5 separate regions of the Homo sapiens genome follow, and all the other regions are linked to region 1. The links come from fine-mapping of genetic effects on gene expression. A gene starts in region 1. Each other region holds a variant in brackets. All regions are shown on one strand. Distances are between the middles of the regions.

Evidence for each region. PIP is the estimated chance that this variant, and not a neighbour inherited with it, causes the effect. A credible set is the group of variants that fine-mapping cannot tell apart.
Region 2: its variant is the best candidate, but not a certain one, in a credible set for the expression of ST6GALNAC3 in whole blood (TOPMed, PIP 0.88).
Region 3: its variant is the best candidate, but not a certain one, in a credible set for the expression of ST6GALNAC3 in whole blood (INTERVAL, PIP 0.70).
Region 4: its variant is the best candidate, but not a certain one, in a credible set for the expression of ST6GALNAC3 in whole blood (GTEx, PIP 0.76).
Region 5: its variant is the best candidate, but not a certain one, in a credible set for the expression of ST6GALNAC3 in whole blood (INTERVAL, PIP 0.88).

The regions. Positions count from the first base shown.
Region 1 is chr1:76,072,154-76,077,153 of GRCh38, reverse strand. It overlaps ST6GALNAC3 (ST6 N-acetylgalactosaminide alpha-2,6-sialyltransferase 3), which reads right to left and starts at 2,408. Exons shown (of 5, transcript NM_152996.4): 1 at 2,270-2,408. The coding sequence starts at 2,287. RefSeq lists a silencer at 2,408-2,607.
Region 2 is chr1:76,102,845-76,107,844 of GRCh38, reverse strand. The region is part of intron 1 of ST6GALNAC3 (ST6 N-acetylgalactosaminide alpha-2,6-sialyltransferase 3); the gene reads right to left. Among named protein-coding and RNA genes, the nearest start is that of ST6GALNAC3, 31 kb to the right of the region's middle. The variant G/A (reference allele first, on the strand shown) is at 2,348.
Region 3 is chr1:76,037,680-76,043,265 of GRCh38, reverse strand. It overlaps LOC124904200, which reads right to left and starts at 1,902. Exons shown (of 5, transcript XR_007066173.1): 1 at 1,583-1,902; 2 at 1,368-1,481. The variant C/T (reference allele first, on the strand shown) is at 2,078.
Region 4 is chr1:76,008,553-76,014,725 of GRCh38, reverse strand. LOC101927342 (a long non-coding RNA gene) reads right to left here and starts at 3,402. Exons shown (of 3, transcript NR_125939.1): 1 at 3,328-3,402; 2 at 1,396-1,466. The variant A/G (reference allele first, on the strand shown) is at 3,151.
Region 5 is chr1:76,049,936-76,056,108 of GRCh38, reverse strand. LOC124904200 reads right to left here. Exons shown (of 5, transcript XR_007066173.1): 3 at 505-596. Among named protein-coding and RNA genes, the nearest start is that of ST6GALNAC3, 22 kb to the left of the region's middle. RefSeq lists an enhancer at 2,858-3,358. The variant A/C (reference allele first, on the strand shown) is at 3,662.

The DNA.
Region 1 (5,000 bases):
ATCATATGCAAGAAGCCAGGCTTGCACTGAACTCAGGTCTCTGGACTGAAACCTGTATTCTGCACTGCTCCATGTGTAGCTTTTCAAAGACAACAAAGAAAAAAGATCCAGCCCAGACTGTCTAGACCATGACCAGAGAAGGGGATTGCTCAAAGGTGCTCAAAGGTGGTTGGAACTGAATGGTATTAGGCCATCTTAAAAGTCATCACCTGGGAAAGTACTGGAACAGCAGTAAAGTATATGGAAGGTTGACATATCTGGGTCTAAATCCAGGATCACTCTGTCATTAACCCTGTGTGGCCTTGGGCAAATCTCTTAAACTAGGGAGCGTCAACTTTCTCATCTGTAAAATGGGGTTTAAAACAATGATACTTATCTTTCAGGGTTTTATGTAAAGATTAAAGAATAAAAAACATTTTGTATTTTATAAAAAATAATAGTTATAAGAAACAGACTGAGGATATAGTAAGGATCAACCAAACTGCACTTATTATTATATGTTAGAGGAAAAAAATGGCACATATTAAATGCCTGTGCCACAAAGTATTTTTCATACCCTATCTTATTTCATTCCCACAGCAACCTTGTGAAGCAGGTGCCACTACTTTGATCTTATATTGAAGAAACTAAGGCCCAGAGACATTTAAGTAACTTGTCCAACATCACAGAGGTAGCAGTGGGCAGAGCCAGCATCCAGACATATCTTTCTGAGTCTAAAGCCCACATTAGTTTCAGTGGAGGGAAGATAAGGTGGACAGATATGTCCCAAATGTCTGAAAGCAGTGTGAAGTGCTAGAAGAGAAAGATTGGACCAGATTCATGTGTAGTTTGGGATGTGCATTAAAGATGTTTACCACATGTATAGGACAAGGCAGGGGAGAAACCAAAACAGAAAAAGATGGCCAGCAATAAATATCATGCTCCTCAATGTCCCTTTCAGCAAATAACACAATGAATAGTAAAGATGACTCATATTCATATTTCAGTCCTTGTGCTAAGAGCCTCCCGGTCAAATACCCCATACTGTAATACTGATGTATTATTTCCTCATGTCCTGGAAAATGTTCTGAAACAAAAAGAGGAAGTTCAGAAAGCTCACAGGAAACTTCTGATCTCCTTTACGCAAAGAAGGGGAAACAACTTCTACGAGGTTAGTCTCTTATTTTCATCATTGACACCAGGCACGTTAGAAGACGATTCAGGTAACCAGAACACAGTAGATGACTTAATATCATCTTATAGAGAAATAAATGCTACTTCACAATAACACAACAACAACGAATTGTTTCCTGGTATTTTCCATCGTCACACAGTTCCCCCAGGCTTGGACAACTAGGTCTCTGCATTCTCCAGTCAAGGCCCAGGAAACTTTCATGCTGTTCATGTTTTTGATTCATGCATCCAGGTTATGTTCTTGTAGAAAGGTAGTGCAAAAAAAAAAACGAGGGCAGGGGAGGCCTCTACCAGTGGGATGGAAAGTTCTTTTTAAGTGAGGCCCTCACACCAAGTTCTCCCACCTGAGGCCACAAGTCTGTGAACCCAGAAAGATGCTCAGGTGAGGCTAAGAATCCGGTCTTGGAGAAAGAAAACTCAACAAAGAAGGGATGGCTGAGCGCACTCTGGCAGAGCATAAAATCATTTTGTCTATTCAAATTTATGAGCATAAAGAGAGTGAGAGGTTCTCTACTAACATATACATCCTCGTGTGAACTTTTCCAAAGTAGAGCTAAGGGCAAACAGAGCTAGCAGATCTCATAGAAAACTCATTCCTAAGGGACTACCTGTAAACTCAGAAGTTTCTGTCTTCACATGATCAAATGCACAGTAGAGCCCACCTCCGCTCACTCTTCCCTCCATTTAAAGCGCTATGCCCCTCACCACCAGCAACTCACGCCTAGCCACTCCACCCCTCCCCGTGGCCCCTGAAAGGCCTCAGGCTCCACAGAGCCGCGGGACCCGCGGGAACACCCCTCCTCTCCCTACCATCCCCATTATTCGGCACACAGCCCTGCTCTCCCCTGGAGCCAACAGTCTGCAGCTCCTTCAATGCAGGCGCGAGCAGGAGGCAGGAATGGTGGGAAAAGAAGCTGTGCCAGCTGCATGTTTCAGAATCTCCCTCCATATGCATTTGCCAAAGGAACAAAAAGAAAATCAATGCCAGGAAAAGACAACTGAGATGAGGATGCGGTGGGACCGCGGCTGACTCCGTGCCTCTGAGCAGCAAGGGGCTGGCCAACCACGCGTCCGAGCCACAGATCCAAGTCGTTACCTTCAGGATGCAGGCCATGGCGCTCCGCCGGCCCTCCTGCCACCGAGCAGCGGGCGCGCCTGGGTCAGGGGCAGTCCTGGGGGCAGGCTGGAGGCTGGTACCACGGCAGGACCTCTCCAGCCCACATTCCCGCAGATCCAAATAAGGGGACCGCGGTGTAAGCTGCGCCGCCACAGACCCCGCCCCCCGAGCCGCGGCCCCGCCCCCGTCCCCATCCACTGGCCCGCGGCCCGCGCGGCCCCGCCCCCGGGTCACGTGCCGTCCTGGGCGCCGGCGCCGGCGGCTCCTCAGTGCCTGCTACTTCTTTCTCTTGTTTTCTTCTGTGAACCTTTCGCGGCTCGACGTGCGCAGAGTGCGCTCTGCAGCAGGCGGGGACCTGGGTCCCGCGGGGGGCAGAGTACGGCCTTTTCTTCTCGGTTCCGTCTCCTCTCACACATCAGAGAACTCCTTTTTACAGACGTTTCACACTTTGTCAAAGTTGAGTGGGTTTGGCATCGCCCTTCTGGAGACTTTGGGCACATCAAAGGGCTTTTCAAAAGTAGCAACGAAGTTCTCCCTGGGCTGTTCAAGGATTGAGCCTTCACTCTGTGATGGGCTTATCTAAAATTAATAATTTACCGCTAATAAGTGAGCACAAATATCAACGAAAGAAAGACGTCATGAACCTTACACTCTGTATGGTATATTTTGTGTGTGTGTACATATTTTACATATACATGTATGTGTGTATAATATATAAATTATTGCCTTTTCCTGGTACAAGCTTGTTTATGAAATTGTATATGCATGATATACAGTATACAGATACAGGATGCACACATGTGTATATTGTATTATATATGTACATGTTGATTGTACAGTATATGTTTATAAACTGTGTATGTGTACATGATAGGACTTTGCTCTTCCCTGCTCCAAGCAAGAGCCGGCTAAGAGAAGCAGTTATTTCTACAAGGAGAGTAAACGCATTGCAGAAGGGAGAGAGCATTCCGTGTACACACACAGATTTTTACCACTTGGTCTGTCAGAAAAATTTTAAAAGCGGCCCCCAAATATCTACCCAAAAGAAGTTTCACTTGCTAGAAGCTCCGTCTAGTTTGCCTCCATGGAATCAGGAAAAGCACTGTGGGCTGGTGGTGTCATGAGATTGGCTCACAAACCACAAGGCAGAATCCAGGCTTTCAAGGAATTTGGTATTTTCTTGATGAGAACATGCAGAATTCTTAGAGAGCAGGAGTAACCACAGGAAGGAGGTTGCAGAAGCTGAGCCTGTGGATGAACTGCCTGTCCCATGGGAAGCTCCTGTCTTCAGTCTCCCTGGAATACCACACCCTGCTCTTCGACTTCTTCCTCCCGCCCCTCCCTCCTCTGCCTTACAGATCCGGTGTGTTTTTAGTAAGAATTCTTTGTTTGGGACTATATACTTTAAACCGCTGCTTTAGCTCATGGTCCTTCATAGGCCAGGAAAATTCAGTATTTCATTCATTTACTCATCCCTTGATTGATTCCACAAACTTTTTTATTGAGCCACTACTAAATGGAAGAATAAACTTTATTCACCTTCCACTAAGTGGAGGAAAAATCTTTATTGAAGACCTTTCAGGGATAGGAGAATGACTTTCAGAATATCTAACATCAAGGTGGGCTCACAGTTAAGTGAGAAAGACAAGAATAAGAGATACATGATACTATAACATGGAAAGGGCCTTAGCCAAATTGGAAGCAAAGATCTCAGGAAGGAGAAAGAGAAACACCTGACCGTCCCCCAGCCCGACACCCGTAAAGGGTCTGTGCTGAGGAATATTAGTAAAAAAGGAAGGCCTCTTGCGGTTAAGAGGAAGGCCTCCGTCTCCTGCATGTCCCTGGCAGAACAGCAGAGCAAAGGGGTGAGGGTGGGCAGAGCACATCGTTCTCTCTAGAAAGTCTGTACATCTGGAAAGAGAAACAGCAGGCCCTAGTGAACAGCCCTGCTAAGTACTTCCCTGCTGGGTGTCCTTGATCAAGTTTCTTAACCTCTCTTTAATCCTTACCTTATCTAATATTATCTATCCTCAAGAGAATTAAATGAGATAATAATGTTTGCAAATTGCATTTACCTCAATTTCTGGCACTATGAGCACTTTTTATATGATAGCTCTTTATGTAAAGAAAAAAATCTTCCGCTAAAGACAGACTTGTGGGAGAAGATGAATAGGATAATTGCCATCAGCCTTGGGTGTCTCAGGAGGATGAACACCAACGGAGCAAACTTTTAACATGTTATGACTTGGGTATGCCGTGATGAGGCCTTTACTAATTCCCTCAATCTACTTGGATATGGCTTTCTCAATTACATTTCTATCCACCCATGTCCATACTTCCCAAGGTGTTATTTTTTTTATTAACATCCAAAAGTTATGTCAAACAGCTAGAAATAAAGGCACATTTATAACAATCTAAAAACAAACTCAAGTTCTAGAATAAATCTGGACTGGAAGATTTACAAAACAGTATTAACAATCACTGTTTTAGATGGACCACTCGATGTCTGGGGGTGGGGGGGAAGCTTTTGGATGGAAATAAAAACAGGTTTTGAACCTACCAGGGAATGGAGATAGCCAGATTTGTTGGGGCTGGGAGGATAGGAGTGTGTTGCCAGGATTTTTTTGTTTTAAAACTGGCCAAACTACAGGAACAGCTTAGTCAAATCCATAGGTGTAGCATAATTTTCCAGCTCTAACATTATGTGACT
Region 2 (5,000 bases), 31 kb before region 1:
AAAATAAAGTACATTGGGTGTAGAGAGAGGGAGAGGACAGAAAAAAGAATGTAGATCTGCCATAGAAGCTTCCATTCTTCTCCACATTGCATCTTCCTATGAGCCCACACACATGGGTCGCCCATAGTGTTCACCCGCAGGGCTGTATTTGAACAGGAGGTGGGCTGGCGGGTGGGGCAAGAGAAAAGAGGGCTCAATCGCAAAAAGCTCACACTGATTAATAAGGAAGGAACTGGAAATGCAAGTAGGAAGAAAAAAAGCCCCTGTGTACTATGAATAATAAGACAAAGATAATACCACATACAAGAATATTTATAAGGCAAGGAGATAATCATGGTACCAAAGAAAGTAGAAAATTGGTTAAGAATAGAACACAACTTTGACAATCAGACCAATCTGGGTTTGAGTCTTGGCCATACCTTCTAAAATTGTGAGCTTAGGCAAGTTATTTAACTCTTCAGAGCCACCATTCCTTCTCAGTGAAATGAGGATAAAAAGAGGACAGATCTCATTGGATGCCTGATTATTATAAAAAAAAAAAAAAAAAGCAAAAGTGTGTTTAAAGAATAACATGTCTGATTAATACTTAATATGCAATAACTGCTATTATTCTCATCAACCATTGTCTTCATTGGATTAGGCAGGGAAGAAGTTAGTCAGGAAAGAGGGGCTGAGTTTGCTCCAGACTTGAAGAAATGTTTGCAGTACAGCTGTAAACCCACAATGTAAGTTCTCTCCATGACCAACCCAACCCCACCCAGTTGGTGAAGACCCTGAATGAAGCCTGTGTTTCTTTCCATAAACTCATGACTGAACAGCATGTGGTAATTACCCTTCTGGCTCACAGGAATGGAAAAATAGAAGTTAATTTCTCAGCAAGATAGGAAGAATTTGTCTTCAGACTCTATGTACAAGTCTTGAGCAACGGGAAATGTATCCATGTTATTACCTCAGAGTAAATGCTGCCATGCACACTTTTCCCATGACAATGGCAGTGAGCCTAGGGAAGGAAAGATACTTCAGAAATGACACTTTTATTTATTTATATACTTCAGCAAGTTGTTTTCAATAATTGTTCTGTGTCCTGGGTTTTTAGTTGTTATTGTTGCAAAATTCACTCTCTTCCATCCAAAACTTAATGTCCCTCATGTTTAGATTATGGATTTTTCCGTGTGCTTAATTCAAAAAGAAAAGAAAAGTATGTTGTTGCTGATGATCCACCTCACCCCACCAAGTGACATGACTGCTTCAGCATTTGAGGAGCATGGGTGCACCATCCAATTCCTACACAAAGCATTGGGGGCCATCAAATGGAAAACACAATTATCCCAAGCACAAGGCACAGCACTGAAGTCAAAGCACAGCCTTAGACTGCCTCAGCGAGCTCAAAGTCCCAGCAGCATTGAGTAGGAGGGAAAATGGCAAAGAGTTTCCAAAGTTATCTTGTGGATTTATCAAAACTCTCTTCTGTCAGCCCCTCTTGCACCAACCAACATGGTTCAGCTCATTTTTCCAAGGGATGAGGGCTAGAGAGGAAACAAAGAAAGACTGCCCTGCAAGACAAGGATCTGTTATAACAACAACATTTTTAGTCTTACAAATAAATCAACTAATTAAAAGAAAAAATTTCCCATTGGATTTCATTATCATGACAATAATAACAACAACAAAAATATAAGATTTATTGACCACTCATTATGTTCAAGGCCCTATGCCAGGTGTTTTCATATACATATGAATTCTAAAAGACAAGCATTCTTGTTGTCATTTGACAGAGAAGAAAATAGACCCAGAGAGTTTAAGAAAAGTGCCTAATGTCACAGTGATGATAAATAGCAGAGCAAATACCTGCACACAGTTTGGTACGACTCCAAAGCTTATACTCTTTCCATGTTACCTGACAATTCTATTTTCTCCATCATGTGAAGAATTGTCTCTCATAAAAAAAGCTAATCGTTCCAGTTTAAAAAAAAGAGTAAGAAAATTATTTGAAGTGGTATTTGTACAATATTTTTTTAAATGTAATAGCCAGACGGTAATAGCACTAGCAATCCAGGATGTATTTTATAGGGCTATTAATATATGCCTCGAGTGGTCAAAGGCTTTGCCACTCACTTGAGGCAAATAGTAATGGCCAATAAAACTTGCCTTGTCATGTCTTAATACCACATTGTATCATCACACTTGTAATGAAATGCTCTTAAACTTCAGTGTTATCAGAAAGGAAGAAAAAGTGGTAATTAAATGAGCTAGCAAAATGAGGAGGAAGTGTGGAAAAGTGGAGAGAGCCCTGAGTTGAGACCTTGGCCTAACTCTCCCATGCACCTCTGTGACCTAATCTCAGGAT[G/A]TCAGCATCTCCATCTGTAATCTGTGGTTCATTACGACAAGCCAAGACTTCCTCCAGCTCCCACAGTCTGTGGTTCTTCAGTGAATTCACATTCATTTAACAATAGCTCACTGAAATCATCTAGGGGCACACCTGTGCTAGAAGCTCAGGACAGCAGTAACCAAGGCAGAAGTCTTTGTCTCTGATGCTGGCCATTAGAGGTAAGTGGATGGCTGTGAGTTGAGATATTGCCTTGCTTTAAAACTTTCTCTTCTTATAGGTTGTGAATATTTCCATGCAAATTGTGACAAAATCTTGATAAGAGTTGCATTTGAGTGATGGGGGAATATTTGGACTATTCCCTCCACTTCTGTAATTTTTGGAATTTTTAATCATAAAAATGTAAGGTGGATAGATGAGAAAAGCTTCAGAGAGACTACTGCTTCTGATAATGACTCACTAGATATGCCAGATAAAACTTTTGATATGATTTGGCTGTTTCCCCACCAAATCTCATCTTGAATTCCCACGTGTTGTGGGAGGGACCCAGTGGGAGGTAACTGAATCATGGAGGTAGGTCTTTCCCGTGTTGTTTTCATGATAGTGAATAAGTCTCACAAGATCTGATGGTTTTAAAAAGGGGACTTTGCCTGCCCAAGCTCTCTTCTCTTGTCTGCCGCAGGTGAGGCATGCCTTTCACCTTCCACCACGATTGTAAGGCCTCCCCAGCCCTGTGGAACTGTAAGTCCAATAAACCTTTTTCTTTTGTAAATTGCCCAGTCTCAGGTATGTCTTTATCAGTAGTGTGAAAACAGACTAATACACCTTCCCATTGAAGATAAGTAAAAGAGAGAAAAAGCATTTATTAAATGCTTTAAAACACCTCAAATCTAAAAAAAAAAAAAAAAGCGTCAGGCCAGGATCAAGGGAAGGAAGAAGTCTGGACAAAAGAAGCTGGCATTCTGGGCCTATTTCTCCCCTAACGACATATTGAGGAGCCAAGGAAATAAAGATTTGTGTTTAAGTCCTGCTAAGGATGGGGGAACTGACCAGGTGTATCATTTGTTTTGGACTGGGCTCCTCAAAGAGCTGTGTCCTAGCAGGAAGGGAGAATAGAGAACTAAGAGGCCCTTGCAGAGGTCTATGGATCATCTTCAAGCCATCTCAATATCTGAAACTAAAATCAGATGCTTCCAGAATTCTAATGCCCCAAGTGCTTGCAGAAGCAAATGTAAATCCCTTCTGGGGTTGAGAAACCTCAATCTTGACCTCAAATTATATCTGTAAAAAATTGTACGAATATACTGTCTCACACACAATTAAAAATAACCAAGCACATAAGGAGATAAGAAGACATAAACAAAACCAGCAGAAATAACAGAAATAGAAACCCACCCACAAGCCTCCAGATACTAGAATTATCTGAAACAGACTTTTTGTAAAAAGTCTTCCTATTTATAGAAAGAGAAAATTATAAAGTTGAGAATTTCAACGTACAATGGTATAGCAGGCTAAAAGGTGGCCCCAAAAAAGATATGTCCACATTTTAATCTCTGAGACTTGTGAATATTACCTTATGTAGCAAAGGAGCAAATAATACATTATATGGAAAAAGATGTGACTGAATTAAGGGTGCTGAGAGGAGGACTTACCTTAAATTATCAAGATGAACCCTGAATGCAATCACATGTATTCTTATAAGAGATTGGCAGAAGAAATTTTAAGACAGACACAGAGAGGAGAAGGCCATGTGAAATGGAGGGACAGAGAGATAGCTACAAGCAAAGGAAGGCCAACAGCCACTAGAAACTAAAAGAGGCAAGGGGTGGATTCTTCCCTAGAGCCTTTGGAGGGAGTGTGGCTGCTGATACCTTGACCTCCAGCCTCCTGAACAGTGAGAGAATACATTTCTGTTGTCTAGGCTACCCAGTCTCTAGTAATTTGCTACGCCATCCTATGGAACTCATAAAAATGAGAAACTCAGAAACAGAGAGAGTCGAATGAAAATTTTAGGCCTAAAAATACATTAACTAAAATTAATAACTTAATAAAGGAAGAACAGACACAGCAGAAGCAGGAATTAGAAGCCAGAAGAAAATAACTAGAATAAAGTATAGAAAGACAAAAGGATGGAAAATACAGGATAAGACACTACAGGATACAGTGAGGAGGTATAACACATATGTAACTATAGCCCATGGAAATGGAAAAGAAGAGACTGAATGGGGAAAAGCAATATTTGACAAGATGAATGATGCCTGAGAACTTTCCAAAACTGAAGAAAGATATCAGGCCTCAGAAGGAGCCAAGACAAAGAATCCTAGAAACCCCAAGCAGGAAATGTAAAAAGAAAACTTCACCCAGGCCAATTACAATAAAACTGCTAAAACCACAAAGAAAAAAAAAAAAAAACTAAAAATCAGCATAAGGGTGAAAAAGAAACAAAAATTGGATTTTTATCTAACTTATCAACAGAAATAAAGAAAGCCAGAAGTAAATAAAATATCTTTTAAGTATTGAAAGAACATAACAGATAGCCTAGAATTTTATGCCCAGAGGAAATATCCCTAAGAGTGATAGTAAAATAAAGCACTTCAAACAAAAAACAAAAGAATTTGTTACCAACAGACCTACAATAAAGGAAATAGTGAATGATGTTCTTCAGGCAAAAAGA
Region 3 (5,586 bases), 34 kb after region 1:
AGTAGCTGGGATTACAGGTGTATGCCAGTACACCTGGCTAATTTTTGTATTTTTAGTAGAGACGGGGTTTCACCATGTTGCAGGCTGGTCTTGAACTCCTGACCTCAAGTGATCAGACCATCTCGGCCTCTCAAAGTGCTGGGATTACAGGCATGAGCCACTGTGCCTGGCCATTTTCCTTCCTTTCCATTCCCCAAGAATGAACTGGCCAAATTAAAAAAATAAATAAAGCAGACTTCAAGTAGGTACTTCAGATTAACTTTGAACATCAGCTATCTTTTTTGAGTGACAGCTAGGTATGTGCCAAATGCTATAGATAGACACATCCAGACAGCCTGAAGGAAACTTGCCTGATCCAACAGTTTGCATATACATCTCTTTTCACATTCAAATGTTCTTAAAAATAAATGGATTTTAAAATGATGCCAATATACCTGAAAATACCAGTTAATTTTAGACAGAAATTTAAAAGACTGCCTCAATTTGATTGAGGCAAGTGTCAAAAATAAGAAAACACCCAGAAAATCTAGTAGTGAGGATCTGGGCAGATACACTGTAAAATCATCTCAATTGTTTCTAGTGCCAGATTTAGATGCCTGCTAACAACTCAGGTCTTTATAAGGAGTCTCCAAAACTGCAAAAGTTTCCAATAAAAGGAAACTTCTGATGCCCATGTGAGTTTTCCATCAATTTCTTCTATGCTGTGATAAGCTTCTGCAAGGCTCAGTTATAGGCACTGTTCTATTACACCCTTTCCCAAGTCTCAGGAGTTTTTCAAAATTTATTTGAAAATACACATGGTCTTCTCACTCTGCTTTAGCATCAGCTCCAAGACAGTTCTGCTTTCATCCTTAAAGAACTTCAACGTGTATTTCTTTCAAATAAAGGCTTGCTGTCTTTCAGAATTCCAAAGTGTTTTTGATGTAAATAGGACGAAATGTCTTTGGACATCAAGTAATGAAACCTGTAGATTTTATCAATGTCCATGGCAATTGGCTGTTTAAAAGCTGTTACCTTGTTTACTTCTGAACAAATTAGAAAAGAGATGCCTGGATGGGGAACCCAGGTGAAATTACTAGATTAGGTTCCAATGCATTAAGAGAGACTTTCCATGACTTCAGAGCCTGGAATATGATTTTAAGCCATTTTACTGGATAATTCCTATGATTCATTTTGCATTCAACCACTGTGTCTGCTTTTTATTTCTCCAGCACACATCTTCCCAAAACTAAATCCTATGTCTTCAATAGCAGACAGGGGTAAGAGAAACATACACCATGTGGCCTTCATGTGAGTCACCTGTGTGACAGGTCATTAAGGCATTTAGGGAGATGAGTGGCAAATCAGGAGTCAAAGAAAGAGGTTACCTGGTATCTGGAAGCGCTTCTCGCTCTTCCACTTCCTCAGCTGCAATTCATTCTCTTCTTTTCTTTTACCTTTTCCTCTCCCTTTTCTTCTTCTTTTTCTCCCCTTTTCTGTCTCTGAAACATGGAAAAACACTTTTGAAAAGCATGTTACTCAGTTAAAAGAACAGATAATACATGGATCAGTTACAGGGTTTGCAGTCTGCTCTCTCCCTCACCTCTCACGTGTACATCCCCCATCTACTAAAAACCAAAAGCCAAAACAAATAAACACAAAACAAAACAAAAACCCTTCTTGGGAAGAGCAGCTCTTCCTCTCTCCCCTCTCTTCCCAACCCCACCCCTATCAACTCCCAGGGAGGTTGGGAGCTGCCTTTGGGTCACTAGATTTCACAAATGAAGATCAAGGTACTTGTTAGAAATAATTAAAATAATGTGCAGAATTAAAGAAGACCTTGGAGGGGAGGGGAGGCCCTGTAAGTCAAGAGCCACCCTCCCGGCCAGGCGCAGTGGCTCACGCCTGTACTCCCAGCACTTTGGGAGGCAGAGGCGGGTGGATCACCTGAGGTCAGGAGTTCAAGATCAGCCTGGCCAGCATGGCGAAACCTCGTCTTACTAAAATTACAAAAAAAAAAAAAGTGAACCCAGGAGTAGTGGCAGGCGCCTGTAATCCTGGCTACTTGGGAGGCTGAGGCAGGAGAATTTCTTGAACC[C/T]GGGAGGAGGAGGTTGCAGTGAGCCAAGATCGCGTGATTGTACTCAAGCTTGGGTGTCAAGAGCAAAACTCCGTCTCAAAAAAAAAAAAAAAAAAAAAAAAACCGCCCTCCCCCACTCCTGACTGACTTCAAAACTCAGTTTGAAGTTGAGAGTTGAATCCAAGGAGTGGAGAGGGGAACTCGGGGAGTGGAGACATGCAGGCTCTATGGGCACTGGAAGCACGTCTGACACATAGGAGACATTTAGTAAATATTATTGAATTAATTAAAAACAACAGGAGTGGAGACAAAAATCTATGTGGGAGCTACAAATTAGATCTCCTTGTTTATTTTCTAAGAGTCCAATAAAGATTTGAATTGCTGTTAATTACTTTTGCTTGATGGATTGGAGTTCTTTCTGTGACACTCTGTGAGAGGAGAGAGAAAGAAATCAACTAGGCAGATAGGGCAAGGGTCCTAAGTAGAATTCCCTTCTAACAAAAAAGCAGCTTCTAACACAGAAAGGGGCCTCCTGTGTGACATACAGACATACAGTGGGCCCCAGTAAGCACAGTCCTCTCCCTTCTTGGAAATACTCAGACAAGGAGGTTTGCACAGCAGGGAGTGCCTGCAGCAGCACTGATAAGACGAGCTACCCTGGACCAGGAGCGTCCACTGTAGAGGGTCCCGCCTCCTGGCCTTTTTCACACATGCGCAGTGGGAAGAGATAGGCAACATGGAGTAACTCAGACTAAGGAGCCCGCATGAGCACTAGAAAAAGTGGGGTGGGAACTGTCAGAAATTTGAGCCTTATGTAAATGAAACACCCTCCCCACCAGCTTGTCTATAAAAACCCTTGCATTTCATTGTAAAATGGCAACCCATCTTTCTGGGACCCCTCTCTGCTCCCGAGAGCTTTCTTCCTTTCGCTTATTAAACTTCTGCTCTAACCTCACCTTTGGAGTGTCCGCATCCTTGATTTCCTCTGCCGTGATAACAAGAACTTCCAGTAATACCCAGACAATGAGGCTGGTTTCAACTCTTTGCCCTGGCTTTTATTCAAGTTACATACACACATTGTCATCTGCCACGCTGGGAAATTGATATCACTTAGTAAACCACAAAGCTGGTGTTAGAATGGGGTTTGTGACTCTTGTGGATGAGCATCCAATGACAAGATACATTTGCTTTTTACATATAAATATGTCTCCCTGGCCGGGCGCGGAGGCTCACGCCTGTAATCCCAGCACTTTGGGAGGCCGAGGCTGGTGGATTGCCTGAGGTCAGGAGTTCATGTGTGGCCAACACGGTGAGGCCCCTTCTCTACTAAAAATACAAAAAAATTAGCCGGGTGTGGTGACGTGCGCCTGTAATCCAGCTACTCGGGAGGCTGAGGCAGGGGAATTGCTTGAGCCAGGGAAGTGGAGGTTGCAGTGAGCCGAGATTGTACCACTGCACTCCAGCCTGAGCGACAGAGCAAGACTCCGTCTCAAAGAAAAAAAAAAAAAAAGTCTCCCCAAGAAAACCATAGAATGCTTACCATTTTAACATGTTATTTTAGAGAGGTGATAGTGCCAAATCCCTTATTACACAGGTACTAAGTTATAGACTTCCAGATGGAATGTAAGGAAATACAAAATATTTTTAATGAAGCAGTAGAATGAAAGTAAAAATGGGTGAAATGTATTTATACTTTGAAGAATAGCAGTTGAACATCTCTGGGTGCCAGACATTGTGCTGGGTGCAATGTAGCATTAGGAAATGTGGTTAGAGCATCAGAAAATCAGAAATTCTGATTTACATTAGGAGTGTGGTAAATGCATTTCTATCCATATGAGAATATAAGTTGAAATCATATAATTCCCTCCTTCTGGGAATGTTAACCTCCCTCTTTGGGGAATCTCGTCTCTCCCTGATTCTAGACATGCGGAGGTTCTAAAGGGGGCTTTACACGATAGGGCCCCGTTGTTTTGGCCACAATTGATGAGTCCAGAGATGGGCATCTAACCCAAACCAGCTAGAGATGTTGCTGAAGGTTTTGCTTCTCATTATGTAAAGAAGCTTGTCTGGAAAAAAAAAGCGGGGAATGGGGAGGTGGTGTGCAAAAGAAAAGGAAAGAAAAAGAGGGAGAGAAAGAGAGGCCTGAGAGAACAAGAGTCCCTAGCTCCATGGGCCTGTGCTCAGCCACACCCCTGCTTTCTCCTGCAGACAACTGAACTGATAAATTTCCATTTTTTACTAAACTAGCTTGAGTTACTTTTTTTTGTCACTAGTATTCAAAATGTTTCTAACTAATATACTTAATATGTTTAAAGTGGTATATATAAATAAGCAAGGGGCTTTGCTAAGCCAAAGAATTATTTTATGAGCCTTAAAAAAATTGACTTTTGAAACCAAAGCCTGTGTTTAAAATCCCAAGTTTATTGCTCACTAGTGGAGTAATCTTGGGCTACTGCCCTTGAACTGTGGTTTCAATACTACCTATAAAAAGCGATAAATACATACATTTATAGATACACATATATGTATATAACTTTTTGTCCTAAGGATCAAATGAGATAATATATATTAAACACTGTAAGTATAGTTCATTCTGTGAAAGGTGGTCATTGTTTTATACCCACTCTGATGATCCTGAATTAAAGGAAACAAAAGTTACAGACACGCTGTTGCTATACTGAAAGAATGTGGGCTGGAATGATTGAGGGAGTTTAAGAACATTCCTCAGTCAGATGGGGAGAGAATTATAGCCATGTTAAGTGAGCTCTTGGTAATTATTCAGAGCAAAGTCAGCAGAATTATTTTGCCACAGATAATACAGATAAGGGACCTGATAGAGTAAGTAGATTACCTCCTTTAGAGCTAATGCGAAACTATTTGGTAACATGAGAAAGAAAGTGGAAGAAATAGCACTTCTAGAGGTAACTAATGCTTTTCTGAAGATTCCTGGTTTTTTCCAGGGATCTCAGCATATCAACTGGACAACTTGATTAGACTCTATGTAGATACTGATGTCTGCGCATAGTCAGTCACTAGAGAAGGTGCACTAGTGGATCACTAGAGAATTATAAAAAGAACCTTAACTATTAATTTATGCAAAGGATTCTGGTAAGTTGTCTTAGATGAAGAATATGGTGCTAAAATTGCATCATTTGCAATCCTTGGTTGTGTGAACACAGTGTCACACTTTCTGGATTGATGATCTGCTTTTCAAAATTTGGCCAGTGGTTCAGCTATTTGAAGAAGTTATAAAGGCATCATCACAATGTTTAACGAAAGTGTAAAAGATCATCTGGGGCATCTCAGATTAATGCCAATTGAAAATCATAAGGGTGATCTGAAACACAACTTTAAAAATGCTAATTGGAACTTCCAGATGTCAAATACTCCACAGGAGATGGAAAATAAACAAGTAGACCTTCCTCCCCTCCACCCATTTTTCCTCATCCCTGCCATGTGAAATAACAAACAGCTTCAAATCACCTCCAACCAAAACGCAGCTGTTGTCTTCTGTATGTCACTTTCCCTGA
Region 4 (6,173 bases), 63 kb after region 1:
ACCAGTTGACTATTCCCCAGCATACTTGTTACAAATCTCAAATATCTTAAGATAAGCTTGTATGGTATGAGTATATAGGGATCCTGTCAAGAAAACAAAAACCGCATGAAGCATTTTAACATAAAATCTACTATAGGGACTTGGTTTTCCAGATGGTGGAGGGCTGAATAGACAACAGGGCTCGCCGGGGTAACTCTGATGTACAACAGCAGGAGCAGCTGCTGTTCAGGGAAGAGGTTGGAATAATCACAGCCCAGAAGCTCTGAGAAAGAGCTGGGGCTCAGACCTCTGAAGAGGAGCATGACCTAGCTGTTGCCATTACTTCTGAGAACATACCAACAGGCTGGCTCTCAGGTTTTCAAAAGAGGCTGGAGACTGGAACCAACTGCTGCTGTCAGGCCAAGGTCACTGTTGGGATGATGCTGAGAGGAACAACAAAAAAACAAGAAGAAAGCCCCTTCTCCCACTAGATGCTAGTCTCTCTCTAGCATCCCTATTTGCAGACTGATGTGGTTTGGCTCTGTGTCCCCACCCAAATTTCATCTTGTAGTTCCCATAATTCCCACCTGTTGTGGGAGATGATTGAATCATGCGGCTGGGTCTTTTCCATGCTGTTCTTGTGATAGTGAATGGGTCTCACAAGATCTGATGGTTTTAGAAACAGGAGTTTCCCTGCACAAGCTCTCTGCCTGCTGCCATCCACGTAAGATGTGACTTGCTCCCCCTTGCCTTCTGCCATGACCTTTAGGCCTCCCCAGCCATGTGGAACAGTAAGTCCAATAAACCTCTTTCTTTCATAAATTGCCCCGTCTTGGGTATATCTTTATCAGCAGCATGCAGACAGACTGATACATAGACCCTTACAGGAAGCCAGTGGGCAAAAGAGAAAGAGTCCTAGGCCAGTCCCATGTAGTACTGTACAGAAAGGAAGGTTTGCAGCTGAAAGGTAAAAAACTGCTCAGCATAAGGCTGAGCCTTAAGCCTGTCACCGGGATGCTAGTGGCTGCCTCCCCAACTAGCAGACAGGCACCCATGTTTGTTTTCTTCCCACTATTGCATCTCAATGCCTGGAAAAGAGGCCAGAACTTAGTAGGCACTTACTAAATATTTGTTGAACCAATTCCGAAGAAACGGAATCTAATCATAGATATCTCTGATTGCAAAGCCAATGATCTTAATTCTTTTCACTGATGCTACAACACCCACTGCCTTTGAGAAGGAATCAACCAAAGAGAATTGCTTCCTACTTTACAAGTTTGCCTGTAAGGGGCCTTGGCAGCCCATTTTATTAATGTCTCCAGTGCTATGAGAGTAAACCAGCAAGAACTGATACAACATTGGCAGTGACTAATGACTTCAGTCTGCCTCTTTTCACAACACAGAAAGGAATTTTACCTGATGACCAAGTAGACATAAGATCTTTACAAACTGACACAGTCCAGATTTTATTCTGTGCTTAACTGGAACTGCAAAAACAAAGTGATAACTGTTACAAGAATCTCAGGAACATTTCAGACATGATTGTTTTCCAAAAGAGAACAATATATGTATATTACTCTTTATTAAAACCCATAAAAACTCAAATGACACCAGTGGCAAATAAGAAGTTGTAAATAAGTCATGGCCTTCTTAAGCCCATGGATTTGCAGCTAGCTCCTGACAATGTGTCTCTAACCTCCTTGCTGGATTCAGTCACACATCACTGCACAATAGGCATTCTCTGCTCTTTAAAACCCTGAGATGCCAGTGCCATTCTCATTTGCATTTTTAAAAAGAGAAAGAAAAAGAGGAAGTTTTGGAGATTAAAAAAACAGGTACATTGTACACAACACTATGACAATCCAATGGGGGTACATATGTTCTAGCTGTAAGCTGGTAGGCATTTAGACTTTTGCTACCAGCCCCACTGGGCTCAAATAACCTTTCTCAATGGTGTCAGATGCATAGCAGAGTACCAAGTCCCATTCCCACAAGGGGAATAAGCAGACCACTGACATTATGGCCACCTTTCACCCAGCACAGAAATTTCAAGCTGCCTTACTTTTAGCAGCAGCTGGGCTTGTGTTCTATAAGACTGAGTAAAACTCAGCAGAACTTCTTTGGAAACTTGTGCCTGGCTCATTAAGACGTATTCTGATATCTTACACATTACTTTGATATTTAAGGCCACGTAAGGATGTTGTGGATTCCTGTGGCTCCTTTTGGCAAAAGTTGAGTGTTAGTAGAGTTTTGCTGTTGAATGTCATGTACCAAACCATTGTGTTTTCTGGAAAGACAAGCTGAGTTTTGCTTGATGCTTAGTTTGGAGAGGATAAAGTTTCTCCCTTTTCCCTCACTCCTGGGGTTGTCTGAGTATACTCCCTGGATTTCTGATCCAGGCAAATGGGGCACTGGGTTATTTTATATTCAGTCACACTCACCTGCGGTGGATTTTATGACACATATAGTATTAAAGCCAGAATTTCACTTGGAGAAATGAAGTGTTGGCATTGGAGATGGAAAAGCTTAGGTGGAGATTATTTTTGCAACCTATGGAGTAATGTTAGACCAACATATGGCTTCAGATGTATGGTGTCTCCTCCTTGGGCCCCCCTCTGTGGGGAAGGCCTTAGGGCACACAGTTCAGAACCAGGCTGCCTGAGCAAAGCTGACTTGTTAGATCAGAATGGCTAATGAACATGAGAACCACTGAGCCATCCAAAGGCAATTTTTATCATTAGTCTCCCACTCCCGCAACAGAAATTCTTTCTCTTTCTCTTTTGTCACCTCTTTATCATTGGTCTATAAGTCTGTTTCTGTTTCTTTTATTAATTTTTTTTTTGAGACAGAGTCTTGGACTGTCACCCAGGCTGGAGTGCAGTGGTACTATCTCGGCTCACCGCAAACTCCTCTTCCAAGGTTCAAGCAATTCTCCTGCCTCAGCCTCCTGAGTAGCTGGGATTACATGCACCATCATGCCTGGCTAATTTTCGTATTTTTAGTAGAGACAGGGTTTCATCATGTTGGCCAGGCTGGTCTCGAACTCCTGACCTCCCAAAGTGCTGGGATTACAGGCACGAGCCACCTTGCCCGGCCTGTTTCTTTTTCTTTTTTTTTTTCCTTGCTTTGTTCTCCTATGTCAGAATCTTTGCTGTTTCATGCTTACCCCTT[A/G]GTGTTTTCGGAATTAAAAGGTTATGGACCCCTAATGTAAAACAATCTTTAAATTGTGGTCGGGTTTTCTATAGAGCATTGGTGATTACAAGTGATAAAGACATTTTATAATGGTTTTATCATGCTAATTCATGGGACTGATGCTTTTATCTCTTTTATATAGAGTTGTAATCTTACCACCAAGAGCATTTTTCCCTGTACGTCAATAGTTCTCAAAGTGCAGTCTAAGGAACCATAGAGGTCATGGAGATCCTTTCAGGGAGTCTGTGAGGTCAGCATCTAAAAATAGTAATACTAATATGTTATTGATCTTTTTTACCCTCATTCTTGTTTTAAAAAAAATTTAGCCAAGTTAAATTTAAAAGAGTTTAATTGAGAAAGAACAATTCGTGAATCAGGCAGTGTCCCAACCTAGAGTAGGCTTGGAGACTCCAGCATAGCCACATGGAGGAAGATGAATGGATGGAAAAAGGAAAGTGACCTACAGAAAACGGACATGAGGTGCAGAAACAGCTGAGTTGGTTACAACTCAGCATTTGCCTCATTTGGACAGTTGGCCACATTTGATTGGCCAAAACTCAGTGATTGGCACAACAGTAGGCCACAGTCTGTTTACAATTCCATTTAGGTGATAGTTCACGACGTACAGAGAAACCTTTAGGCTGAACTTAAAATATATAAGGAGGCAGCTTTAGTCTAAACTTGATTTAAAATTATCTTACCTGTGTACAGTGAAGTTTTTCAGAAGTTACATGATATGCTATATCACAATAGACTGAATGCAGAAGCAGAAATGAGAATCCAGCTGTCTTCTGATATTAAAGAAATTAGCAAAACTGTAAAGCAATACCATTATGTTCACTAATGTTTTTGTTTTAAAAAATAGTTTTCACAAAATTATGTTATTTCTGTTAACATATAATTGGTTTATTAAGTTTATTATTGTTGGTTTTAAATGAATCAACCAATATGTTAAAAATATATATTTATCAGTAGATCTAATCCACATAAAAAAAAACTCTCTGGGATCTTCAATAATATTTGAGTATAGTCTTGGAACCAAGAAATTTGAGAACCACAGTGTTAGATTATAGCCTGACCAGTCAAGTATCAGCCTTCACTTCAGTGTAACTTCTGTAAAGTGCATACCTTCTAGGAGAATTTTAATAGGTCAAAATAAGCCCTGATAATTTGAACTCCAAACTGTATTGGGAATCTAACCACTGTTAACCACCCTAATCACATATACTCTAATCAACTTAGACTGAAGTTACTTTCCCCAAATCTGTTTTGTTGCATCCACTTGTATCCCACTATAATCCATTCTGAATATTGCAATCAGGACAACCTTTTTAAAATGAACTTCCTTATCATGTGCATTGCTTGTCCAAACCCTCCATTGGTTTCCCACCATACTAAAAATATACTATTGTATGACCTACAAGATCCCATATGATCCCGTTCTGTTGGTCTCAACCTCCTCTCTGAGCATTCCTGTTGGTCACATTGGCCTTCTTGCTCTTCCACTCATGTTATTCCCTCTGCCTAGAGTGCTCCTTCCTCAGATATTTTCATGGCTTCATTTACCCCTTTGTCATCTCTGAGTTCTCACAAAATAGTGCTCTACCTTCATCCCACCCATCCTCTTTATCCTCTTATCCTTATTTCTCCATTGCCATTTCACTGCCTGACATTATATTCCATATTATTTGTGTATTATCAGTCTCTCCCACTAGAGTGAAAGCTCCATGAGGGCAGAGACTTCGACAGTCCTACTTATCACAGTATATCCCAGTGCCCAGAACTGTGCTTGGTACTGAGTAGATACTCAGTAAATATTTATTGTGTAAGTGAGGCCTAAATGCCTAAAACTTTGTAGTCGTGTGCTAACTTAACATGTGCTAAAGGCCTAAAACTTTGTAGTCATGTGCTAACTTAACATGTGCTATGTACCTCTTAGCTCTATACTAGGTACCAGAATATGGAGATGAATAAAACACAGCCCAAAGCCTATACAGTCAACCAGAATGAAATCAGTCTTAGAAGAGAGGTACAGGTAAGGTGAGAGAGGTACTAAAGATAAAAGGATTTATTTCAGTGGAGAGGTTCACAGAAAGCTTTGTGATAGAGGGAATTACTGAAAATGTTTAGTGATATTGATTTCAGTGTTATCTTATCTGGGCTTTGCAAAATCTTTTCACTTTGTTGTAGTCTTAGCTGTAATCATTCAAGGTTTTTTGTCTTAAAACAATCAAAAGATTCTTTGGTTCATTCCTGCTATCAAGAGTCAGTTCTTTCAATAGGTGACAGAAGCAAAGTAACCAATTTTTGCTGGAAAAAAAGAAAAAATAAGAACAAGGACAAGAAGAAGAAAAGGACATGGTGAGCGGTGACTACTACAGTTCCCTGATGTTGAGGTTTTTAGGCCTTGGGCCCCAGACACTCAGATGGTTTTTATCTTGTAAACAAACCAAAAAAGAATAACTAAATTTCAGAAGATCTGTCTAGTATCAGGAAGACCCACAAAATCCCATCAACATTTTATAATAGACTTATAGAAAGCATCAGATCAATGTGCTATGAAGATTCCCATGAACATAAAAAGAAATGAAGATGAAGTATGTCAATGCACATTGCCCACCTCCACGCTGTTGCTGGAATAAGAACCAAGGATTCGAAAGATTAACAAGAGAAGGACCTAGAATCAGAGTGAGAGAAAAAGGAAATGAGGGTGGGAAGAGAGAGGGAGGAAGGCGGAGAATGAAGCCTTTACTGAAACTCCCCAGTGTTTGGAAAAAATATAAATATATAAATTTTTGCAATAAATAGCCTGAAATACCACAGAAATTCATGTCACCGCTAAATATTAGATGACATTTTGGTACTATTTGCCTCAGAACAGAGGTGAGCTGAGTCTAATGTCTCAGTGGTATTTCATAATGGAGAGATTTCAGTGGTGCCCTTTTCCCCAATTTGTATAGATTTTCTTGTACTGCATACAAACCTCCCAAGCTAGTCACAAT
Region 5 (6,173 bases), 22 kb after region 1:
CTGAGTAAGATGGAGAGGGCCAAGAAATCTTCACTTTCATGTTTAATTCATTGATATGCCATTTCCCTCTATATGTAGACAGCATGAGCTTCTCCACCACATAGTGGTCTCCAGTTAGTTATGCTTCTAACACGATGACTGGCCTCCAAAAGGGAGCTCTCCAAGTAGTGAAAGCAAAAGTTGGGAGTCTCATAAGGCCAGTCTTGGAAGTGATGCAGTGTCATTTCTGCCACATTCTGTCAATCAAAGTCAGTCACAGGCAGCTCAGAATCAGGGGAAGGGATCATAAACTCCACCTCTTGATGGAGGAGTGGCAAGATCACATTACAAAAGAGCTATTGGGAGAGGGTCTATTGTTGTGGTCTTCTCCAGAAACACAATTTACCACAGAAGTTTAACATAAAAATTAATCTAAGGCCAATGAAACCTCCAGGGACCTGGCAGAGGCAAACCCCAAACCACTTCTGTAGTTCAGGCCTCATGGGGGTCCCATGGTAAACAAACCTTGTTGAAAATGTGCTTGTGATCAAAAATTACAAACGACATAAGGAAACAGGACACAGATACAGCAGAGAGCAGAACTGGCACACCATCACCTGGAATAATGGAAGAAAATGAAAGAGATTTAGAAATAAACATGATTAACATGTCCAAAGAGCTAAAGGTAGAAAATATTAAAAAACACATAGGCATGCTTGAAAAGGATGAAATTGAAATCATAGTGACAAAAAGTATACTCATTGAAATAGAAATCCCAACACAGGTGACAAAGAATTAATGAAATGTAAGATAGACCTAGGGAAATTATTTTAGCACAAGTGCAGCACAAATAAAAGAGATATTAAAAACATGAAATATCTAAGGGATATTAAGATACTAAAAGGTTAAAATAAGAGTCTAATTCATACATCTAATAGGAATTCCTAAAGGAAGGAATGGAGAGATTGGAGAACCAATATCCAAAGAGAGTGTCTGAAAGCTTTCCACAATTAAAGAAAGAAGTCATTATATTTAGTAATAAATCATAGCAAAATTTAAGCAAAATAAATAAAAATACAAATACACAACAAGACACATCTTACTGAAAATGCACAACATCCAAAACAAGAAGTAAACAAAGCTCCGGGGAGAAGAAAATAAGACACGGTAACAATGGAACTGACAGTCTTCTCAGCAATAATAGGTAGATAATAGAATAATGTATTTTAAATGTTGAGGGAAAATAGCTATCAATCTAGAAATCTTTGAGTATGCAACTGTTGTTAATAATTAAGGCTAAATAAACCCATGTTGTAAAAAAGACAGAAACCATCCGATCAGAATTTTGTTATTTAACTTTACTGCAACATGCTTTATATACAATAAAGTACAGCCATTTTAAGAACACTGTTTGATCGCACTCTTGTAACTACCACCACAATCAAGATACAGAACATTTCTGTCACCACGAAAGGTTTCCTTTATTCCTTCCCCAGTCAATTTCCCCACCCCACCCTTGGCCCCAAGTAACCACTGCTCTGCTTTCTGTCACTATAAATTAGATTTATTTTTTCAAGAGTCTTTTAAAAAATGCTTTTAGACTGCATGTAATCTTTGTGTCTGGCTTCCTTCACTCTGCTTAATGTTTTTTGAGATTCATCCATGTTATGTGTATCACTAGTTTATTCCATTGCACAGAAAAGAAAACTGATGCTTCAATATTAATTCCAGACAAAAGAAAACTTAATCAGAAAGTACTGTTAGGGCTAAAGAGGGGCTGTATATAAGAAAATTACACCAAGAGAGTAAAATAAGCATGAATGCACATGTTTCTGTCACTAAAACGACAAAGCATTTAAAGTAAATCTGATAAAATTACAAAGACAGTCCAAGTGCAGTGGCTCATGCCTATCATCCCAGCACTTTGGGAGGTCAAGGCAAGAGGATTGCTTGAGCCCTGGAGTTTGAGACCAGCCTGGGAAACATAGTGAGACCCTGTCTCTACAAGAAATTTTTTAAAAATTAGCCAGGCATGGTGGTGCATGCCTGAGTACCAGGTACTTGGGAGGCTGAGATGGGAGGATGCTTGAGCCCAGGAGGCTGAAGCTGCAGTGAGCTACGACAGCCACTACACTCCAGTCTGGGTGACAGAGTGAGATATTGTCTCAAAAAAATAAAAAAAGAAGATAGGAAATTTAAAATAAGAATGGAGGCTTCCCTGATAAAGTCATCAGTTAGTTGACTCTTACACTGTTATATGCTTAATCATGCTAGCAAATCAAAGCATAATCATACTGGCTCCACTTGAAACAATATTAGTGGAAAGGGTATTGATATGAAGGAGTTAACACTATTTGTCATTTTCTAGGCCGTTGGTAACCATGCTTTTGCGGAAGATTTAAAAACAGTGGGTTGCTTTCCCTTTACCATAAAATAAAGACCAAAATGACCAAAAAAAAAAAAAAAATAGACAGCATTAACTGAGCATTTGTCGGGCAATATGTTAAACACTGTACCTGCATTCTCTCTTCACTTCTTGCATCAAGTTTTTCCTCAGTTTCATGGAAGGAAAACTGAGGCTCACAAGGGGTGGCTACTGAAAAGCAACACCAGGACTTCAACCTGTGTCTAACTCTAGAATCAACTTCTAATCCTACTAGACCATACATATTATGTCAACCCAACAACAGCAGTTTACAAATTTCCACCATTAACTTCCCCTTCTGACAGCAGAACACATTCCTGACCTGAATCCCTACTAAGCCACTGGCCAGTTCATTCTTATTCAAACTGTGGAGCAAACACTCAGCTGGATTATTTCTCACGTAAAACATTCCATCTGCAGAGAAGCAAGACTGGCTTATGTTTTTAAAAACAGTCTGCCTGGGGCTGGCTGTGTGATGGAAGTGAGAGGCGGCGGGGTACCCTGGCCGTGGCTGACAATGAAATGCTGGAGAACAGAACTGGGGAATGAGTTGCAGACACAGCACATCAAAGCCACAGTGAGTGGCCTGGAAACAGGCAGCTCAGCGTCACCCAGCTCCTGCTGCTGCCAGAGGAAGGATGCTGCAACGGTCATCACTTAACCACTCTCTGACTGCCAACAACCACAATAACTAACACCTTGCACTGAATTATCATGGACCCTTGTTTCCTGTGACCTCAATCTTACCTTACCCCCTAGATCATCTTCCAAAAACAAGGTATATATTTTTTAAAGGAAGACACACTGGAGTTCTCATATGGACTTTAGAAAGCTGTAAAAACTAGACCCTGAATGAATCTACATGTTTGTATGTTACCTCACCTAATCATAGGTTTATGAAATCAGACCTTTCCATAACGTGAATTATGTCTTACACAAAAGAATAGAAAAGAATAACTCATTGCTATTCTGCAGCCAGCTTGTAATTTTCTGCAGAAAGATTATGAGAAGATATAACATTGTAGGGACTTACATAAAACACAAACCTAAAAGATAAACATTACCTTAGCTTTTGCCAAACACTGTGTATATTGGTCAGCTAGTATGAGGCCTGGCATGTGGTTGGTTCTAAATACATGTTTTGTGATAACAATGAGTAATTATGACACTTTAGAAGGCTTGAAGCAAAACTCTCTGTTGAATTAAGTGAAATGAGTGCTATACTGTGTTTAGATGAGCAAAATAAAGGGACAAATG[A/C]GCAATTGTTAAATGAATTTAATCAACCTGGATCATAAACTACCTAGGTTCAAATTCCCATTCTTCTGTTGGACCTTGGGCATGTTAACTGTACTTGTCTGTGCCTTACTCTGCTCTGTAAAATGAGAATTATAAGGCTATCTGCTGGGGTTGTCGTGAGGATTACATTAAATGACACATGTAGGCATGTGTTGTGGTGCCGAGCATGCAGCGAGCACTTGGCAAATGTTGGCTCATGACTTTATTATTATTTCTCTAGGCCACTTTTTCAGTTGTTTTACCTTTATGAATAAAATGTAACCATAGCAACTTCAAATAAACTTTTTTTTTTTTTAATAAGAGACCTCTAAACACTTAAAACCCCAAAGCTGACTTTCTTCCCGTGGTTAATGTGATGGTTAGTGTGGCCCAGTGTTTCACCAAATATTAACTTTTATTCTTCCCTCTCCTCACCCAAGACACTTGTCCTTAATGAAAACAGAAAATTGCTTTCCTAATTAACATTTTCAGAAATATGGCCTGATTATGCACCATTTTTAGTCAAAATAAATAGATATGTCAGAAATGTTCTCATAGGCAGTGGGCTAAAAGCAGCTTTGATTTCAGTGTCAGAAGGACTAGACAGTAGGTTTTTGAGGGAAAGATTTGTTGGTCCACAATGGCTGTAGCTTAGGTGCTTGGCGCAAAGCCTGGCATATGCTAAGCACCCAATAAGAGAATATGTAAACTTCTAGTTGATTCCTCTCTGTCATAGCAAGTGGCTCTCTATGACTTCAACCTCCAAAGATCATGTGGTGTCATGAAAAGAACCTAAATCAAACACACCTGGCTTTAAATCTCCAAACTTTTTCTAGATCTATGGTCTTCAGCAAGATAATCTTTCTAAACTAAGCCACAGTTTTCCATCTGTAGATGGGACAACCTTATAGGATTTCAGTAAGAGTTAGTGATAACAATGGTAGCTTGATAGGGATAGCATTGAATCAGTAAGTTACTTTGGGCACTGACTTTCTTCAAAGAATTAGAAAAAACTACTTTAAACTTCATATGGAACCAAAAAAGAGCCTGCACAGCCAAGACAATCCTAACCAAAAAGAACAAAGCTGGAGGCATTATGCTACCTGACTTCAAACCATACTACAAGGCTATAGCAACCAAAACAGCTATATAGACCGATGGAACAGAATAGAGGCCTCAGAAATAACACCACACATCTACAACCATCTGATCTTTGACAAACCTGACAAAAACAAGCAATGGGTACAGGAGTCCCTATTTAATAAATAGTATTGGGAAAACTGGCTAGCCATATGCAGAAAACTGAAGCCGGACCCCTTCCTTATACCTTATACAAAAATTAACTCAAGATGGATTAAAGACTTAAACATAAGACCTAAAACCTAAAAACCCTAAATAAAACCTAAGCAATACCATTCAGGACATGCACAAAGACTTCAGGACTAAAACACCAAAAGCAATGGCAACAAAAGCCAAAATTCACAAATGGGATCTAATTAAACTAAAGAGCTCCTGCACAGCAAAAGAAACTATCATCAGAGTGAACAGGCAACCTACAGAATGGGAGAAAATTTTTGCAATCTATCCATCTGACAAAGGGATAATATACAGAATCTACAAATAATTTAAACAAGTTTACAAGAAAAAAAAAAACCAACAACCCCATCAAAATGTGGGCAAAGGATATGAACAGAAACTTCTCGAAAGAAGACATTTATTCAGGCAACAAACATATGAAAAAAAGATCATCATCACTGGTCATTAGAGAAATGCAAATCAAAACCACAATGAGATACCATCTCATGCCAGTTAGAATGGCGATCATTAAAAAGTCAGCAAACAACAGGTGCTGGAGAGGATGTGGAGAAATAGAAGCACTTTTACACTGTTGGTGGAAGTATAAATTAGTTCAACCATTGTAGAAGTATGACAATTCCTCAAGAATCTAGAACCAGAAATACCATTTGACCCAGCAATCCCATTACTGGGTATATAACCAAAGGATTATAAATCATGCTGCTATAAAGACACATGCACACATTATGTTTATTGCAGCACTGCTCACAATAGCAAAGACTTGGAACCAACCAAAATGCCCATCAATGATAGACTGGATTAAGAAAATGTGGCACATACACACCATGGAATACTATGCAGCCATTAAAAAGGATGAGTTCATGTCCTTTGGAGGGACATGGATGAAGCTGGAAACCATCATTCTCAGCAAACTAACACAGAAACAGAAAACCAAACACCGCATATTCTCACTTATAAGTGGGAGTTGAACAATGAGAACACATGGACACAGGGAGAGGAACATCACACACCAGGGTCTGTCGGTGGGTGGGGGCTTGCGGGGAGGGATAGAATTAGAAGAAATACCTAATGTAGATGATGGGTTGATGGGTGCAGCAAACCACCATGGCACGTGTATACCTATGTAATAAACCTGCACGTTCTGCACATGTATCCCGGAACTTAAAGTATAATTTAA